Linked DNA regions of Homo sapiens: region 1 is linked to region 2. Evidence: fine-mapped expression QTL. A gene starts in region 2. The other region holds a variant in brackets. All regions are shown on one strand. Distances are from middle to middle. Region 1 holds the start of LOC124902798 (a long non-coding RNA gene). Region 2 holds the start of GLB1L2 (galactosidase beta 1 like 2).

Region 1 (3,011 bases), 45 kb before region 2:
CTGACGAGAGGAGACAGGCAATAACGAATGCATATTATTTCAGATGCAATCTGTTGTATGGAGGATGAGGGTGAGTCGGGGAGACAGAGGTAGCAGTGGAGAGGGTCAGTGCTCTGTAGGGTGACCACAGAGGCCTCCGTGATAAGTGACCCTTGAGCGAAGCAGCAACACCCTGACATGCAGCTCCCCGGGCCCAAGAAGAACGAACTCTCCACCAGGCGGAACAAGCGTTGCTCAGCCTGCTTACAGATCAGCAGGAAGGCCATCGGGCTCAACTGACGGGGCGGGGGCTGCTGGGGGCAACAGCAGTGAGGGATGTGGTGGGCGTGGGAGAAGGGAGTCCCCAGGCACCGGGTGAAACCAGAAGGCAATAGGGGGTCCAGTACGGAGGACTAACATAATCTATCCATCTCTAAGAAGAACTGCCCTGCTCCTCCACGGAGGATAAATGGAGAGGGCAAGGGCAGGTGGAGACGTGGCTCCTGGAATCATCCAGGCCAAGATGCAGTGGGCTGAGTGGGGGCATGGGGTTGGGGCAGAGAGAAGCAGTCAAATTTTGGCCAAGTTTAGGAGGCAGAGCCAGGAGGATCTGCTGCTGGATTGGATGTGGGAGATAAAGAGAGGGGTCCAAAATAGCCCGAGACACAGAACAGCACTGCCATTTCCAGATACAGGGCTGCGTGCAGGAGGGGTAATGTGGGGAAATGGAGCTCTGTGTCAGGTGCCTGTTAGACACATGCAGAAGAAAATGCGCCCCCACACACCTGGAGCTCAGGTGCAGCCCAGCATCGGCGGGCGCGGGTGTCCAACCTGTTTACAAACCACAGGTGCACGGGTGAGACCCTATGCAGTGAGTGTGGACAGAGGAAAGAAACAGCCCAAGGAGTGGGCCAGAGACCCCCAGCATTCAGAGGCTGGATATGAAGAGGGATTCTCCAAAGAGACCTAGATGAGGCCATACCGTGTGGAAGATAATGGAAACATCTTTAGTCAACGCTGGAGAATAAGCTCTGCCAAGAGGTACTTTGATAGAGAAGCTGAGCAATTAACTGGCAGAAAATAAGGGTGAGAATAAGAAGCTGGTGTAGGAAGACCTCACCTTAGGAAACCACAGTGTGTCCTGCTCAGGTCTGCGTGGAAGTGTGATCCAAGGGGCTTCTCCACCTTACAGGAGGATTTGCAGGAAGGTTCCCTTCCATTCCATCACTTTCTGACGGAACCAGCTCATACACAGCTCTGCAGAAGCACACACTCAGGTAAAGCGGGGCAGAAGACCCTGCAGGTGGCTCAGGCCACACCCAAGTAGCCCGAGTCTCATCCACATCTTAGCCCCATGCTTGTCGTTCC[G/A]AGGCAGTTCCAGAAGAACTGGTGAGTTTGGGCAAAACCAGGGACTCTGCCCCATGTTGTTCCCAAGCCACTGTCCACAAGCTTTCCTTTAATAAGCTCCATTTAATAAGCCCTTGACCCGGCTCAGCTGCTGGGCTGCACACCACGAATGTCCCCTGCACTCCCCCTGGGCAGCCACACACGGGCAGCAAGCCTGCTGGCCTCAGTGAGCTCCACGGCTCACCATCCCCCAGCCCACCTTCACGGGGCTCCCAGAGCTCTCGCTGTGCCGGGGATGTGTGTGCTACTTGACTTTCTGACTCTTACTGGAGATAATTTGGTTTTGGCAGTAGATGCCAGATGTAGTTTGTGAAGCAAAACTCAACCCCGCAGTTAACTCATATGGAGCGCCCTTGACTGCCTGGCAGATTCTTACCCCCGCCCACCAGCATGAGAATGAATTTGCATTTGAACTGTCCTCTCCAGGGCACTTCCAATCCAGAGACATTTGAAGGGAAGTCGGGGTCAGGAGGGGAATATGAGGCCAGGATCATGGCCCACCCACCCCAGGGACGGTCCCCATCTGGACCCCCAGGCGGCAAGTGGGGCCCAATGGGAACCTGACCAAGAAAACCAAGCTCTCAGACAGCCTTCCCTTCTGGCAAGAGTGGCACACATGACCAGAGACTATCACCAGAGGGGGTGTGATTCAAGGTTATAGCTTTACTGCAACTCAGGACAGTGAGCCCAAGCCAGGTGTTGGGCTGGGCCCCAGAACAAGGCTCAAATGCGGACTTGGACACACTTCGAAGGAGGGCTGCTCTGCCCCTGCTGTTCGGGCGTGGGGGGTGGGGGGCGGGGGCCACTGAGCTGGGCCTTCTGTCCTCCTCCCTGGATGTGCAGACATGGGCCATGGCTTCTGCCAGGACTCACATGTGAGCTGGGCCTTCTGTCCTCCTCCCTGGATGTGCAGACATGGGCCATGGCTTCTGCCAGGACTCACATGTGAGCTGGGCCTTCTGTCCTCCTCCCTGGATGTGCAGACATGGGCCATGGCTTCTGCCAGGACTCACATGTGAGCTGGGCCTTCTGTCCTCCTCCCTGGATGTGCAGACATGGGCCATGGCTTCTGCCAGGACTCACATGTGAGCTGGGCCTTCTGTCCTCCTCCCTGGATGTGCAGACATGGGCCATGGCTTCTGCCAGGACTCACATGTGAGCTGGGCCTTCTGTCCTCCTCCCTGGATGTGCAGACATGGGCCATGGCTTCTGCCAGGACTCACATGTCCTCCTCACTGAACACCAGAGACACCTGCTAACTTGGGAAGACGCAGGGTGAGGATTTCTGTTTCTCCAGCCCAGCCTGTCACCCTGTGGGAAGCAGCGAGTGGGAAGGGAAAGGGGAAGTCACATGTTTCTCACGCCGAGTTCCTTCCAGAATCCCAAAGAAGGCTCAGAAGGTTGTGAAGGAAGAACAAAGTCAGCTCAGGTGAGACACCCCTTCCCCACCCTCTACACTGGTGACACACCCAGGATTTCGGGGATAAAATGGGGCCATGAGGGATGTGGCCAAGCCTCCCAGGAACCAGCAAAGAGCACGCCTGAGTCCAGCAGATGCTCGCAGGGCTGTGACGTCCAGTGCAAGGGCACGTTTCAGCACTTTTTCTGAGGGCCAAAGGCTGGGC
Region 2 (2,704 bases):
TTCCAGATATTTATCTCCATCAAAAACTTCCCTGTCTCCCAGGGGAAGTGCAGAGAAACTAAGAACTTAGTTTCTCTAAGTAAAAAAGAAGCAAATGACAAAGCCGAGCGGCGTAGGGCCTGCCACCACTTCCAACCGTTCAGTTCATTCGATACTGCCGGTCGGCTTCCCACTGGAGGTTTTGAATATGGAAAGTGCTGACCTGAAAGATAGGGTCAGGGCTGTAGAATCCTTAAAATAAGCACAGTTTAGAAAAATGCTGGGCTAGGGCACCCAGAAAACTTTTTCACAGGCTGTGGGTAAATCACAGTATCACTGAAGCCACTCCTTTGCCATAAACAACATTTGGAAAAGGGGGAGAGGAAAGGGTGAGCTGGTAACAGGTGAATGGTGGGAAAGTGGAGAGAGACGACCTATCAGTCCTACTGTGCAAATAAATCATGGCCCGGGATCTTGGAGGCCCACGGACACTGTTCTTACGACCCTGCCAGGCCAGCTGGCTAGACCATACCTGCCAGGCTGAAGCGCCGGCCTCTGCGGAATAAGGCGCCTCCCAGAGGCTTGGGAGGAAAAGGGGGGCCTGGGGGAAGGGCAGAGGGAGCTCTCCGCGGAGCAGTGGGGACGGGGCCGCGATGGGGTGCGTCTGAGAGGGCTCTGACGGCTGGAGGGCTGCGGGCGTCCACGGGGGGCAGAGCCCGGCGTCACAGGCGCGGCGGGGTGGGCGGCTCGGGGCACAGACGCCGGCTCCCGAGGGCACGCCGGGTGTCGCCCAGAGGCCTGGATCGCGCGGCAGGAGTAGAGTGCCTGCAGCCGCAGGGGAACTCGGGGGTATTGGGGAGCTCCCAGAAAGAAGCAGCTGGGGCTGCTCCCCCCGGGAACTCGGGATTCGCGGGTCGCGGGAGGAGAGAACCCGAGGTGCGGAGGGCTGGGGAATGTGGGGTCCGGCAGGTGCTGCGCGAAGCTCTCTCTCACCTGCGGAGCACCAGGAAGCCCAAGACGACCAGCAGCAGGAGTCCCAGCGTGCGGGCCGGCCTCCGCCGGAGGCTCCACGTGGTCATCGCGTGTTCTCTAAGCGCGGGGACCCGGGTTCCCACTCCAGTCCGCACTCAGCCGCGCGCGGGAGCCTCGCCGCGGGGGGCGGAGCCGCGCACTGGTCGCCTGGGCAACCGGCCCGCCGGCGCTCATTGGCTGGGGCTCGCGGCTCCGCGCCTGCAGCCCTAGGCCTCGCGCAAGCGGGGGCGGGGCTGGCCGGGGCCGGGGCGGGGCCTCTGTCGGGGGGGGGGCGGGGCGGGGCTGGTGGGCGGGGACGAGGTCTCGGTAGGAGAGGGGGCTGGCGGGGGCGGGGCTGGCGGGGCGGGGCCCCGGCCGGGGGCGGGGCGGGGACAAGGTCTCGGTAGGGGACGGGTCTGGCCGGGGCGGGTCCCCAGTGTCGTGGAGCGGTGCAGAGTCCGCCGTCTTTCTGCTCGCGAGGCGCAGGCGGGTGCGGGAATGCTGCGTACCTGTCAAACGCCGAGGTAAAGTCGCCCCTCGCAGCGCTACATCAGGAAGAACGTACAAAAGGCGTCCGCAAAGCAGGGGCAACCAACAGAATCTTTTAAAACAATTCAGATTCTGAAGCAAACAACTTTTTCAATAACAAATCATCCTGTGAAAAGCCAGGATTTTGAAGAATTGTATCTGGACACATTTCAGTGTGGTTCATGTCTGAGGAGGGGGGGTTCCAAATATTTTCTGTCTTTGGTTTCTGCGAGTCTTACTCTGGCCTTGACTCCAAGGGCTTCCAATTTTTTATTTTAAAAAGGTCCATATAAAACTCTCACATTTTAGGAAAGGAAGAATATCATTCTTATTCTGAAACAGAATGTATGTCCCAAAGAACATGATGTAGTATTTCGGTGCAACTTACACTGTAGCAATCACAAACCCAACTCCTCCCGGGAACAAAATTCAGATTTTACTGAAAGAAACTCGAGGAAGGGCAACGTTTTCCAGAGCATCCGGGTTTGTCGAATGTCTCCCTTGCCGCATGCTTTGAATTCATTTCCTAAACGGGGGCATAGTTTTGAACTTGTAAAGCCGACAGGAACCAAATGAAATTGCAGATCTTGGAACAAAGACACAGACTTGGGTATGAAGTGTCCTTTGTCTAGCGTTAAGCACATATTTAGTCAAGGAGCAAAAGTTAAATCAAAGAGAGGCAAAAACAAACGAACAAACAAGAGGAAAAAAACCCTGGCAGAACTGGGGAGGATAAGCTGGGCTTGGAGCAATCCGGGTCTGACTTAAGCACCGCAAACATTCCCAGAGGCGCGCAGAGGGAGGCCCACTCCCGTGGACGCGCTCCAAGCCCGCTCCTTTTCTCCATTGGGTAAGGCTATGATTGCTTGATGGCTATGAAGTCTGTGATGGAAACATGTTGGTTTAATTGGAATATACCAGCTAGCCCCGAAGCGTGTGGAGAAATTGTCAAAGGCTAGCCCCTTTGCCTGCAGGGGACCATCCGAAAGACATGCACCCCACATTCATCCTCTCACTTCTGGTCACGTTGAACAGTGGCAGAATCTATCAAATATAAGGGAATTCTCAAATGGTTTAAGCAATACAAGCATCTCCATTTTTCTTCAAACGTTAGCAAAAACTTAACATGGGTTGTGAAAACCGTGAACTCCTTGGCCCACCCTTGTATCCTTCGTTTTTATTTGTG

The links. PIP is the estimated chance that this variant, and not a neighbour inherited with it, causes the effect.
Region 1: its variant is fine-mapped to the expression of GLB1L2 in tibial artery (GTEx, PIP above 0.99). The same link has a PIP of 0.9 or more in atrial appendage and prefrontal cortex.

Annotation. Positions count from the first base shown.
Region 1 is chr11:134,375,343-134,378,353 of GRCh38, reverse strand. GLB1L2 (galactosidase beta 1 like 2) reads right to left here. Exons shown (of 19, transcript NM_001370461.1): 19 at 2,030-3,011. LOC124902798 (a long non-coding RNA gene) reads right to left here and starts at 1,558. Exons shown (of 2, transcript XR_007062961.1): 1 at 1,100-1,558; 2 at 13-290. RefSeq lists an enhancer at 994-1,893. The variant G/A (reference allele first, on the strand shown) is at 1,348.
Region 2 is chr11:134,330,416-134,333,119 of GRCh38, reverse strand. It overlaps GLB1L2 (galactosidase beta 1 like 2), which reads right to left and starts at 1,132. Exons shown (of 19, transcript NM_001370461.1): 1 at 973-1,132. The coding sequence starts at 1,058. RefSeq lists a silencer at 983-1,282.